Homo sapiens: one gene and its partners. The protein of the gene in region 4 purifies or fractionates together with the protein of the main gene of each other region. This does not show direct contact. Each region holds a gene or a part of one and is shown on either strand. Other genes may lie near its edges.

The links. Proteins that work in one complex are often made in the same cells at the same time.
Region 1: the proteins of SMC2 (region 4) and FLII fractionate together in Homo sapiens (co-fractionation; one large-scale study listed by BioGRID). This does not show direct contact.
Region 2: the proteins of SMC2 (region 4) and XRCC1 fractionate together in Homo sapiens (co-fractionation; one large-scale study listed by BioGRID). This does not show direct contact.
Region 3: the proteins of SMC2 (region 4) and BZW1 fractionate together in Homo sapiens (co-fractionation; one large-scale study listed by BioGRID). This does not show direct contact.

What each region holds. Positions count from the first base shown.
Region 1 is NC_000017.11:18,246,527-18,248,738, reverse strand, and holds part of FLII (protein flightless-1 homolog), read left to right. Parts: intron 1-17; coding exon 18-189; intron 190-705; coding exon 706-810; intron 811-890; coding exon 891-1,082; intron 1,083-1,381; coding exon 1,382-1,570; intron 1,571-1,686; coding exon 1,687-1,826; intron 1,827-1,910; coding exon 1,911-2,145; intron 2,146-2,212. UniProt on the Homo sapiens protein: Is a regulator of actin polymerization, required for proper myofibril organization and regulation of the length of sarcomeric thin filaments. It also plays a role in the assembly of cardiomyocyte cell adhesion complexes.
Region 2 is NC_000019.10:43,544,528-43,548,027, forward strand, and holds part of XRCC1 (DNA repair protein XRCC1), read right to left. Parts: intron 2,451-3,500; coding exon 2,357-2,450; intron 2,201-2,356; coding exon 2,068-2,200; intron 1,580-2,067; coding exon 1,525-1,579; intron 1,431-1,524; coding exon 1,291-1,430; intron 1-1,290. UniProt on the Homo sapiens protein: Scaffold protein involved in DNA single-strand break repair by mediating the assembly of DNA break repair protein complexes. Negatively regulates ADP-ribosyltransferase activity of PARP1 during base-excision repair in order to prevent excessive PARP1 activity.
Region 3 is NC_000002.12:200,814,910-200,818,409, reverse strand, and holds part of BZW1 (eIF5-mimic protein 2), read right to left. Parts: intron 3,070-3,500; coding exon 2,893-3,069; coding exon of another isoform or gene 2,887-2,892; intron 2,744-2,886; coding exon 2,649-2,743; intron 2,086-2,648; coding exon 2,020-2,085; intron 1,305-2,019; coding exon 1,169-1,304; intron 437-1,168; coding exon 327-436; intron 188-326; coding exon 17-187; intron 1-16. UniProt on the Homo sapiens protein: Translation initiation regulator which represses repeat-associated non-AUG (RAN) initiated translation probably by acting as a competitive inhibitor of eukaryotic translation initiation factor 5 (EIF5) function.
Region 4 is NC_000009.12:104,111,309-104,114,808, reverse strand, and holds part of SMC2 (structural maintenance of chromosomes protein 2), read right to left. Parts: intron 3,229-3,500; coding exon 2,995-3,228; intron 1,494-2,994; coding exon 1,334-1,493; intron 846-1,333; coding exon 728-845; intron 119-727; coding exon 1-118. UniProt on the Homo sapiens protein: Central component of the condensin complex, a complex required for conversion of interphase chromatin into mitotic-like condense chromosomes.

The sequences.
Region 1 (2,212 bases), on a different chromosome or scaffold from region 4:
TTGCATCCTGCTCTCAGGCTCTTTGCAGAGAAAATTAACAAGAATGAGCGGAAAGGGAAGGCTGAGATCACACTGCTGGTGCAGGGCCAGGAGCTCCCAGAGTTCTGGGAGGCACTGGGTGGGGAGCCCTCTGAGATCAAGAAGCACGTGCCTGAAGACTTCTGGCCGCCGCAGCCCAAGCTGTACAAGGTGAGCCCTGCTGCTGAGGCCCACCTTGGCCTCCCAAGTTCACCCACCGACTGGGGGAATGGACTACACACCGATGTAGTTGGCTTTGGGCTCCATCTCGACTTTGGTGGGGAGAGGGTGCCACCTTCTGGACAAGGAACAGTATGAGCAAAGGTCTGGAGGCTGCTTTTGAGAAGTAGCCTCACGGAGTCTTTCCAGGATGGTGGGGCCGTAGGGGAGACAGAAGCACCTAGTGCCAGGGCTGGGAACCTTGGCTCAATTATCTAGATTCTTGTGAACAGGAAAGGGACACGTTAATTAGAAATGGCATGAAGGGCCTGGAGAGGGCAGGCAGGGAAAACTCCATTTAAAAGCCCTTCTGAAAGGATATCCCTAAAAAGACCTTGAAGGGGAGGGGGAAACAGAAGCAGTCAGTGAGCCACGCTGCAGGGCAGGGCTGGTTCCAGAGCAGAGGGCTGTGTGGGTGAGGTTCCTGTCTCCAGATCCCTTCCCTGCCATGCTCATCCTTCCTGCCAGGTGGGCCTGGGCTTGGGCTACCTGGAGCTGCCACAGATCAACTACAAGCTCTCCGTGGAACATAAGCAGCGTCCCAAGGTGGAGCTGATGCCAAGAATGCGGCTGGTAAGAGATGCAGGAGGAGGGCGTGGGGCCAGATCCCTCCCCGTTGGCTGGGCTTTGACCTCCAGACTCCCGGTCCGCAGCTGCAGAGTCTGCTGGACACGCGCTGCGTGTACATTCTGGACTGTTGGTCCGACGTGTTCATCTGGCTCGGCCGCAAGTCCCCGCGCCTGGTGCGCGCTGCCGCCCTCAAGCTGGGTCAGGAGCTGTGCGGGATGCTGCACCGGCCACGCCATGCCACGGTCAGCCGCAGCCTCGAGGGCACCGAGGCGCAGGTGCGCTTGCAGCTTCGGAGGCCCCTCCCCAGGATCCTTCGCACCCTGACATGCCCTGACCCCTGTGGCTTCACTACCTCCCTACAGAGCTGGGCCCAAACCCACCTCCTCTTTGCTGACTCTGCCCAGGCCCCGCCCCCTCTGCAAGCTGCCCCTCCTATTCCTACCTCCGTGTCCGAGGCCCCGCCTCCCAAGCCCCGCCCTAGATCTCCCTTGGGTCCCGCCTCAAGCCTCGGGCTACTTCCTCCAACTCTAATCATGCCGCACCCCTCATGGTTAGTTGATGGCCTCCCTGGCAGGTGTTCAAGGCCAAGTTCAAGAATTGGGACGATGTGTTGACGGTGGACTACACACGCAATGCGGAGGCCGTGCTGCAGAGCCCGGGTCTCTCCGGGAAGGTGAAACGCGACGCCGAGAAGAAAGACCAGATGAAGGCTGACCTCACTGCGCTTTTCCTGCCGCGGCAGCCGCCCATGTCGCTGGCCGAGGTGGGGGCAGGGCCGGGACCGGGGCGCGGGGGGGGGGGTGGGGGGCAGGCCGAGGGCGGGGCCTATGCGCAGAGCGCGCTCAGACCTGCCGCGGGGCGGGTCCCTCTCACCTGCAGGCGGAGCAGCTGATGGAGGAGTGGAACGAAGACCTAGACGGCATGGAGGGTTTCGTGCTGGAGGGCAAGAAGTTTGCGCGGCTGCCGGAAGAGGAGTTTGGCCACTTCTACACGCAGGACTGCTACGTCTTCCTCTGCAGGTACCACCTCAGCACTCCCTTCCCCAAGTCCCTCCCCTGGTGCTGGGGGCTCGAGCCCCTGCTCACAACCTTCCAACCCGGCAGGTACTGGGTGCCTGTGGAGTACGAGGAGGAGGAAAAGAAGGAAGACAAGGAGGAGAAGGCCGAGGGCAAAGAAGGCGAGGAAGCAACCGCTGAGGCAGAGGAGAAGCAGCCAGAGGAGGACTTCCAGTGCATCGTGTACTTCTGGCAGGGCCGTGAAGCCTCCAATATGGGCTGGCTCACCTTCACCTTCAGCCTGCAAAAGAAGTTCGAGAGCCTCTTCCCTGGGAAGCTGGAGGTGTGCCTGGCAGCCCCGCGAGCCCGAGGCCAGGCGGAGGGGTGTGGTGGGGCTCAGACCCAGCGAA
Region 2 (3,500 bases), on a different chromosome or scaffold from region 4:
ACAAGGACTCACTCTGTCGCCCAGGCTGGAGTGCAGTGGCGTGATCTTGCCTCACTGCAACCTCTGCCTCCTGGGCTCAAGTGATTCTCCCATCTCAGCCTCCCCAGTAGCTGGGACTACAGGTGCATGCCACCAAGCCAGACTAATTTTTAAACTTTTTGTAGAGAGACGGGGTATTGACATGTTGCTCAGGCTGGTCTCAAACTCTTGGGCTCAAGCAATCCTCCCACCTCAGCCTCCTGAGTAGCCAGGACTACTGAGTAGCACACCACCACGCTCGGCTAATTTTTAAAATGTTTTGTAAAGGCGGGGGTCGGGGGGGGTCTCACTATGTTGCCCAGGCTGGTCTTGAACTCTTGGACTCAAGCAGTCCTCCCACCTCGGCCTCTCAAAGTACGGGGTGAGCCACCACGCCTGGCCTGCCTGGAGCCACTTAATGAGCTTAGTCCAGGCTGAAAACGTCAGTATCTGCCACTTCTTCACCTTTGCTCTCCTTTCCAACCAGTGCCTTTCTTGTTCTGACCTTTGGGGTGGCTCCTTCTTTCCATTTTAAGGTGACTCTCTAGGCCATCAATTTGCTGATGCCACTTTAGGGGCTTGGGAGAATCAAAGCATCTTCCTGCCCATCACCCACGAGGAACTGGGTGGAAACGGCTCTTCTGGAAGCCCCAGAACCACACCTCTGCACAGCCCGTGACTGTCTTTCCTCTGCTCCCTTCATTCTCGAAGAAGCTCTGCCTCCCTGCCCCTCATCCCACAACTCCCTGCAGAGTTTCCCCATTTCCTTTTGTTCTTATTCTTTTACACTGGAAATGCAAACACACAATGTGTGCAGACAGCATCCACGTCCAGAGTGATGGCTGATGTTAAAGCAGACACTGGTGTGCACCCACCCAGGGCCTGACAGAGAGCAGTGCCCCTGTCACCTGGTGTGCCCGGCTTCACCCCAGACCAACAGAACGGCACCTGAGCAAGTGAAGCACTAGCATGAGGGTGGGGCCCTCACCCCTGACGTGAAAAAAAGGAGGTCACACCTGGCACATGGCTGCGAGGGGAGTGGTCAGAACAAGAAATCTGGAGGGGAGAAAAAGGCAAGTCACAGAGAGGATGCTGAAAGGAAAGGAACAAGCCTGGCAGAACCTGAAGGTGCTGAGGCAGGGAGTGGGTTGAGGAAGGAGAGGGGAGGCAAGACACGGGGGCAGCAGTGACCCCAGGGCTGGCCAGGGCAAGTCCCAGCTGAGAACTGAGAAGAGAAAATGCCACTTCAGGAGGGATGGGGGGATTTCCCACCTGGGAGCTCAGGGACTGGCAGATCAGGAGGCTCCTGGTGTTCCTCACTGTCCGTGTTCTCATCCGTGGAGCCTGCATACGGGTCTTCCCCATTCTCCTCCTGGCCAGGGGGCAGTCTGTGTTCCTTCTGCTCTGCCACCCTGGGGGTGCCAAGAGGAGTAGAGAGTGAGCATGCAGAGCAGCCTCCCCTACACCCAAGGCCAGGGACACCCCAACCCCCAGCCCCAGCCCTACCTCCTCAGCTCATCCTCTGTGTCCCCAGAATCTTCCGCCCCATTGTCCTGTCCTTCTGCAAGTAGAAGCTCAGTCAATGCAAGGCTGCCTTGTCTCCTGGGAAGACTGGCAGCTCTCCCAGTATGGCACAGACCCAGGCATCTCATGCCCCCAGCCTCAACTGCCCTCCAGATCCAGTCGTCTGGGCCCCCAGCCCCTCCTCCCTCTGATCCAGGAGTCCAGGCCCCAGCCCCTCCTCCCTCAGACCCAGGAGTCCAGGACTCAGCCCTTCCTCCCTCAGACACAGGAGTCCAGCCCCCAGCCCCTCCTCCCTCAGACCCAGAAGCCCAGGCCCCCAGCCCCTCCTCCCTCAGACCCAGGAGTCCAGGCCCCCAGCCCCTCATCCCTCAGACCCAGGAGTCCAGGTCCCCAGGCTCTCTTCCCTCAGACTCAGGAGTCCAGGCCCCAGCCCCTCCTCCCTCAGACTCAGGAGCCCAGGCCGCAGGCCCTCCTCCCTCAGACTCAGGAGCCCAGGCCCCAGCCCCTCCTCCCTCAGAGTCTGACCTGACTGTACCCCCTCAATGTCTATATCTTCCTGGAGCACTGGTGAGGCTGCTTTGGTCTCTTCAGGGGTTGGGGGCTTCTGGGGTGAGCTGGGTCCAGCTGCCTGAGTGGGCTTGGTTTTGGTCTGGGGTTGCTAAGGAGGGAGAGTGGGTGGGTGAGGAGGGCAGGAACAGTGTGGGTGTGTTGGGGGGGTACCTGCAAGAGGCAAGAGTGGGAAGTTTGGGGTGCCACAGCGGACTCATGTCATCCTCCCACTACACCCTCCCCCACTGGACAGGGGGCATCAGACCTTCTGAGGAAGCTTGGGGGCTTCATCTCCGCTGCCACCGCTGTGAGAGGCCTCATCCTCCTCACTGCTGGAACCTGGCCCTGCCATGAGGTACCTAGGGGACAAATCGGGCCTCAGACAAACAGGCCCAAGGGAAGTGGGGAGGGCGTTCAGGAGGCAACAGCCATTGGCATTTACTAAAATACTCACTCTAGTGGGCCTCATGGTCTTGTTCCCAGCCCATTCTCTCCCAGCTCAGGAAGGCCCCAGTGAACCCAGTCAGTCTGGCCACCTGCCCTGCAGACCTGGGTACCCCCTTTCTTCCCCTCCCTCTTTTTTTTTTTGAGACAGAGTCCATTCCATCGCCAGGCTGGAGTGCAGTGGCCTCATCTCGGCTCACTGCAATCTCTGCCTCCAGGTTCGAGCGACTCCCCTGCCTCAGCCTCCCTAGTAGCTGGGATTACAGGTGCACACCACCATGCCCCGCCAACTTTTTGTATTTTAGTAGAGACACGGTTTCACCATGTTGGCCAGGATGGTCTCGATCTCCTGACCTCATGCTCTGCCCCCGTCAGCCTCTGAAAGTGCTGGAATTACAGGCGTTAGCCACCACTCCTGGCCGCTTTTTTTTTTTTTTAGACAAGATCTCACTCTGTCACCCAGGATAGAGTGCAGTGGCGTGATCTTGGCTCACTGCAACCTCCACCTCCCAGGGTTCGAGCGAGTCTCCTGCCTCAGCCTCCCCAGTAACTGCGATTACAGGCATGTGCCACCACGCCTGGCTAATTTTGTGTTTTTTGTGTTGTTTTGTTTTTTAAGTACATACGAGGTTTCATCACGTTGGCCAGGATGGTCTCGAACTCCTGACCTCGAGTGATCCACCCACCTCAGCCTCCCAAAGTGCTGGGATTACAGGCATGAACCACAGTACCCAGAATTCCCCTCCCTCTTGGGGAAGAAATGTCTCAATTCAGAAAGGAATGAAAAATCAGAACTTTCTCCTTTAAGAATCAAAGGCAGTTTCTCATTAGGAAAATACCCACCATTTAAGGGGAAAATCTCAAAGCAAACACATTTTAAAGACTACAACACTATAATCATGGTTCCTTAAGCCACTAACATTCCAGGAAAAGGATTTTCCTAGCTCTAACAACAGTAGCAGGTT
Region 3 (3,500 bases), on a different chromosome or scaffold from region 4:
TTAAACAAAAACTTACATCCTTAAATGGATCACCACGGGACATCTGTTCTTGAAGTTCTTTCTGGAGCTCCTTACGAGCTCCGATGGTTTGCTGATTCCGAACATATTCTGAAAGCTCTTTCAAGCCTGCCTCAGTAAAATATTTTGTGAAGTGTTCAACACTTTGCTTATTGGCAGGAAAGAGTTCCTAAAAGAAGAATTTATCTGGTTAAACTTTCTTTAAATCAGATTAAGAAAAACACTTTCTTTTCACAGTCTTAAAAATGAGAAATTTCTCTCATTTACATCCTTGGCAAGAATGGGAAGAATGAAAAAAAGTTACCAACCATCAGTCTGTTATCCATGCTGACTTTCCGAAGACTTGCAGCTACTGCATTGATATCTTTTTCATTTATCCATGATTTAAAGAGCTTCACAGCAAAAGCTGCTGAAACTCCTGTAAAAGAAAATAGCTTAATTAACAGAAGTACCTTCCCTGGTTTCAATCACTGTGTCCCCCTATATCCTTCCCTTCATAGTTCAATCACATGGGATTACTGACTTTCCTCACAAACTTAACCCTGAACTTTCCTGGGCCACAGTTTATCACTTCTCCAATCTCCCTAGTCTACCACTTGCAAATTGTATATTCTTGGCCAAGTTACTTAAAGTGTTTTCCAAAGTATAAATTGAGGGCAACAGTCTCTACACTTGACAAGACTGTTGTGAGAATTACAGTAAGGTAACTTAAATACTCACTACTGCAAGCAGTTTTTTAAAAAAAAAAAAGCTTCAAAAAAATTACTGTAGAGAATAATCCGACAATTGGAGCCAAACAGGGAACTGATTTTCCCTTCCAGCTTGACATTTTCCCCAAACGTCATCTTCTCCAAGTCTCCCAATTGGTATTAATCTCTTCTGGGGTTCCCACAGCATTTCTCATTTTATTTTTATTACATATAACAACATTTTGTCTAAATCTGGGTATCTGTTGTATGCCTAAAGAAAGCCATTAAACCTGGATGCCAAAGGTATTCATTAAATGTCTAGTGAATTAGACTGAACTTATTAAATTTAAGGCTGGTTAATAAACGAAGACTTTCACAGAAGTCACATCTATGAACAGTAAACCATGCTCTTATCCACCCCACTCTGAGTCAACTGAAGACCATCCTTTAAGGCTGATTACCTTCTTTAACCAAATTTTCATTATAAAGGCTATTAAGAATGGATGCATTAAGTGTTCCATTAGCCAGAAGAACACCAGTCAACATAGCTAGCTTGTTCCTCTCCGACTCTGAAAAACCCTTCAAGAACAGCAGCAGCTGTAAAAAGTAAAACAATTAAGGGTTAAAACAGCAACTGCATTACAATAAGAGAAGCAGTAAAGCATGTTATACTGGCTACCTGTTCAATACGTGGGCTCTGGGATCTAACCATCCAAGTTTACATCTAAGTTACAATACTCATTAGCTGAATGATCTCGGGCAAGTTACTTAACCTCTGCACCTCACATGTAAAATGTGGATAATAAAACTTGCCTCACAGGGTTTTTATAAACATTGAGTGAATTAGTATCATTAGAACAGTGCCTGGTGCTTGATAAACATATCAAGTTTTCTGGGCATCTATATGCAATATTGGGCCAGGCGTGTTGGCTCACACCTATAACCCCAGCACTTTGGGAGGCCGAGGGCAGATCACTTGAGGCCAGGAGTTCAAGGCCAGCCTAGCCAACATGGTGAAACCCTGTCTCTACTAAAAACAGAAAATTAGCTGGGCATGGTGGCACATGCCTGTAATCCCAGCTACTCGGGAGGCTGAGGCACGAGAATCGCTTGAACCCGGGAGGCAAAGGCTGCAGTGAGCTGAGACTGAGCCACTGCACCCCCAGCCTGGGACACAGAGTGAGGCTCTGTCTCAAAAAACAACCCAAACAAACAAGCAAAATTACTCCAAATCTGTGGCGGAATTAGGATTTAACATTCCTCTTTCTAACCCTATTTTTTTCTTTTCCACAAAGTACATTATTACTCATACCTTTTTTACTTCATCTTCAAAACCTTTCTCCAGGTATTTGTAGCGCCTGATTAACTTGTTAAAAACCTATGAAGAACATTAAATGAATTCAGTAACTTCATATATTTCTAGAATAGCAAAGTAGTAAACCTTTCACTCGATGTAAGTTTATGAGCTGCTTAAACCAGCTTGAGAAGAATTCCTAGTGACACATAAGAATGTCCAGGTTAGATGTACTTTAATTCTTTGCTTACAGTAACACAAACATAACTACGTATGAAACTTTCCAATGAGATCTTGATTAACAAGCTAATCAGCTCACAACTCATTTAACTTTAAAAATAAATGTATGCAGATAAACTAGAGAAATCACAATACGAAACTGACTTTTCCAGCTTGACATTTTTCTTAAAAATTGAGTAATTTCAGGACAAATAGGAACAGAAGAGTTAATTTCATTTTTCCCTATTTTGTTCGCCTTAACACACCTTAAGTTTCTAATTCATCCCGTTGCACCAAGAACAGTATCCCTAAAATTTAAAATCAAATTCCTTCAACTTTCTAACCACAACTCTTAAAAGTAGAATATTCCTCAAATATACCACATGGATAGTAGCCAACTGAAAACAATTATGTAAAGTTTCATTTACCTGAGCAAATGCTTGCATGGTCTCTAGATCTTCTTGGGCTGCAAACACGCAGACATCTGTACGCATCATGTCATCTGCCAGTGTACCACCTGGGGCTAAAGTTGGATAAAACCAAAATACAACAAAACCAAAAAAATCACTCCATTTTAACAAGTTTGCCAAATAGTTCATATTCTAGACTCTCCATAATCTCCATATATTATACCTTTCTAAATTATTAAGCCCACAAACCACAGACACTTACCCAGCATTCCACCAGCCACCAGAATGTCAAAGAGTGTTTCTGCATATCGACGGTAATCAAGTTTTGCTCCAGAAGCATCAAGAAACTTAGCTACTGCTTCCAAATCAGTACCGGTTTCAGTTAAGCCTTGAATAATACAGTCTTGAAACTGAGTAGGGTCAAACCTCTCTTTTTCATCTGGGGGGACAAGGGACCCAAAACATTTAGTTTTAAAAGATTTACCAAAATGCCACAAAACTATCACCTTATGAAGATGCAATTGTTAAATAAGTTAGATTAAATTCACATCCTTTGCATGTTTCCCCTCTGCAAGTGTAAGACAAGATGGCCCACTCACAAGAATTGTGCAACTTTTCAAATAATTTCACAAGTGATCTAAATGTGCTAGTGTCTTGTGTTCCTACTGCCATAAGCCAATTTCTACTGGGAACGCCCTCCTACTGCCTCTTGGCTTTTCCAAAATTTAGGCCATCCTCTAACAGGTACATTTTATTCCTTTGGGTTTTGTCCAGACACTGGAGCTCTTGATCCTTTTCCTTAAATGTCCATAATATTAAACAAACAAAAAAATTGAACCAATCCTTTGGCATTTATGAAGGTGAGCTTTA
Region 4 (3,500 bases):
GTAGAGTCGTTCTCCAGCCACTAATTCTAAAGCTGTGGTTGCAGAAGTGTCTTTCACACTAATCAGAGAAGCCACAAGTCCTTTCACACAATTTCTATTCCAGTTCTTCTCTGGATCCCTGAAATACAAAAGTTGACAAAAATTAATCTTAGATAATAAAGTAGAAAAAGTTATACTTTACTCATCAGGAGCTCTTTTGGACAACACATTAAAGTGAAATGAAAGTAGAATCAGCAAAATGGTTTTAACAAACCAAAAATTTTAAAATGTCCCAAATGACTAGCCAGCTGTTGTTTTTAAATCACAATAGATCTTTCAGTATGTTTCAATGTAGTAAGAACAACTCTGATGTTCTAATCCCTATAATACATATGATTACTGTAAATATTCCATAAAAAACCCACATAGCAAAACAAATTATAAGATGTAAATGTGGATATTTAACATTAATGATACAGTAACTCTGAAGACATTTTGAACTGAGATTAAATTTCCCTCATTTTAAGATTAGTGGCATCATTAGCCATTAAATTTCACAAGAATTTCCCTGCCAACATTTAAAACATTTCAACAAATGTTTAAAGGAAAAATACCAATGAAAGAAAAGCAGCTTACAACAAGTTTCATACAAAAATCTTGGTTTCGACAAAATTTTCACACTGCTTCCAGCTTAAATAAAAATGTCTTGATTATTACTATGTTAAAATTCAAGGCTTAAGTCTCTTACTTGTATGCAAATCGAAGATTGGGAAATCTGGCTAATAGAGCTTCATATGTTTCTTTCAATCTACCAATATCACGAGACAGCTGCCTGCGCTTTTCCAAAAGGCTTTCCTCTTTATTTTCTGAAGGATAAATCATAATAAATTAAAACCAAGTTTTAAAAGCTCACTCTACTGTTTTAAGGAAAATATTAGCAACCACTATTTCCAAAGCATGCAAAAAATACAAATTTCTGTAAGTATTAAAAAAGCATGCTGAACCTTCCTATTTCTATCCACTGTCAAACAGACATTATTTCCAACGGCAAATAACACAATTTTCATTCCAAAAAATAACATACAAACTGAATGCCTAATGTAGAAATACACAAATGACATTTTTGAGCTTTCAAATGATTGAAGCAGGAAATTCTCAATACTGAGTTCTCAAAAATTCAAGAGTTGTTTTATAATTAGGTATTTTTTGACGATATTTACAACACTTCTTATACTAATGCTTGTTAATAGGCTAAGAAATGTTTCCTACTTGCTTGCGTTCTTTATTTAAATTAGCTTTTTATCAAAAATCACTACCTCCTCATGATCTGATTATCATGTTTTTAAAGGCAAACCTTCATAATTTAGCTTTTTCATTTCAGCTTCAAGTTTTTCTTTAAGTCTTTTTACAGCTTCTAGAGCTTCTTGATCCTTCCTGTAGCCACTATCCATCTTCTTAACTTCAGCTTGTTTATTCTTTAATTCCTGTTGAGCATGCTTCAACTTCATCTGAGCCTGTGGCAGAAAAATGCAACAGACCATAGGATGTATGAGGCAGACAGTGCTAGTAATTAAATGGCCGAAGATTCAGATTGGTTTTACTAAGAGACCTTAACCTTCAAAGTTTAATTGTTTGGTCTCTTGGATTAGTATTTCAACAAATTAGTCATTTCCCAGTATTTTCTCCTCAAAAAACTACTCAAAGTATAAACTAATATATGATTAATATGTAAAAGAATTTGAAATTTAAGTCCGTATTTTTAATAAAATATGACATATTCAAATTGAAGGATTATATCGAATAACTGTCAGTAGCTGGTAATTAAAAAAAGAACGCTAGAAATCACAACTCTCGTTCTTTTCCTTTCCGCTTAGTTGTTCATATTTGTATGTGTATATATTTGTGAGTGCTATCTAATAACAGTAAAGAAACTGAATTGAGCAATAAGACGTAAGATTATACAGGAAAAGAAGCTAAACTGACAGAGAAACTTAAATGCTGAGTCTGATAATTAAATGCTAGAACTATTTAAATTACATGTGTCAGGCCTTCAAGAATTTATACACTTGAACACTGCTTCTTAAAACTATGAACTAGTATTCTAAAACCTAGATGGGGTTTTAGATGGGGGTATCCTCCAAAACTGTATAATGATGTATTTTTCCCAGTTCCCTTATAAAATAATAGACAAACTGAGAGTAGAGTACTTTAAAGCTTTTCTACTATTGAGAGTTCTTATAAATTTGTGACTATCATCTGTCATGCCTGAATGAAAAAGTTGCAAATATATAAAGAGAAAAACCTGAGGATTAACGCATAATCACACACATTTGTGTACATGTTTTAAAATCTGTGTCTTCCATTAAAAACAAAACAATGATGTGCCTGTGTACATGTATTTTTTCTGCTAGCAAAATTCTTATGTTCATAGGACTGTAAGTTGCACTACTATGTAAAATCTGAGAAACATTATAATAGACTGACAAGACTTTTAAGATTATGAAATCAGAGTAGGGAGAGCAGACTAGAATGTGGCTACATGTGAGGTAGAGATACTTCCTAAAAAAATGTAAAGTTTGAGAAACAAGGTTTTAAGAACTAGGTATGGCAGGCAAAGCAATGGGGAGGACAATCCTGTTTTCCTGTTAAAGCTTAAGACTTCAACATTATGTTATCAATAAAAAATAAAAATAGCCAAAAAGAGACAAGAATAAATGCATTAATCTCGAAAATTCCACACAATGCTGCAAACAGAACAAAGCATTTATTGCACTTACATACCGAATTAAGATAATTTATGTAGTACAGCATCTTCACAAATTAACATCACCAATATTTAGCAATCAACATATTTGAATTTCGCTGCATTAGGCATTAGAGTTGCAGAATAAAGTAAACAAACAAGTTCCTTGAGACTGATTATTTTCAACATTATGTAACAATTGCCAAAGCATAACATGAAAAGAAACTTCTTGGAAAAAAAAGCAATCACATAGTGCTAATGTCTCTATTTACCTGTTTGGCTTCTGTCTGAGCTTTACTTATATCATTTTTACAGGCCATCATTTGACCAGCAAGAGTTGCTTCTGCTCCATCTTCATTACTGGACAGGCCAGCGGAAACAGCATTGAAGTGCTGCTGTGCAGCTGCCAGAGCTTCAGCATCTTTATTACTTGCTTCTTGAAGGGCATGCAGTCCATCTGTTATCTTTTTAACCTCTTTTTCCTTTGCTGCTAAAGTTTTTGAGTCCTTTAGGAAGAGTTTCAAATGGAAAAATATTATATTTCAGGAAAAACACCCACTTTCTTATACGCATACCCTTATGTAATAAAATTCCATAGCAATTTGGAGTGAGCATAATAAAATAATTTAACCATCATAACTTTATAAATACTGAATTATCATTTTGAAATTCACTCTCAGTTTTTAGAATAAATATAACTCTTATACTACTGGTTCATTCCATGTTATAAATTAAATCCATGAGACATTGGGCTAAATAATAATTGCAGATTTAAACA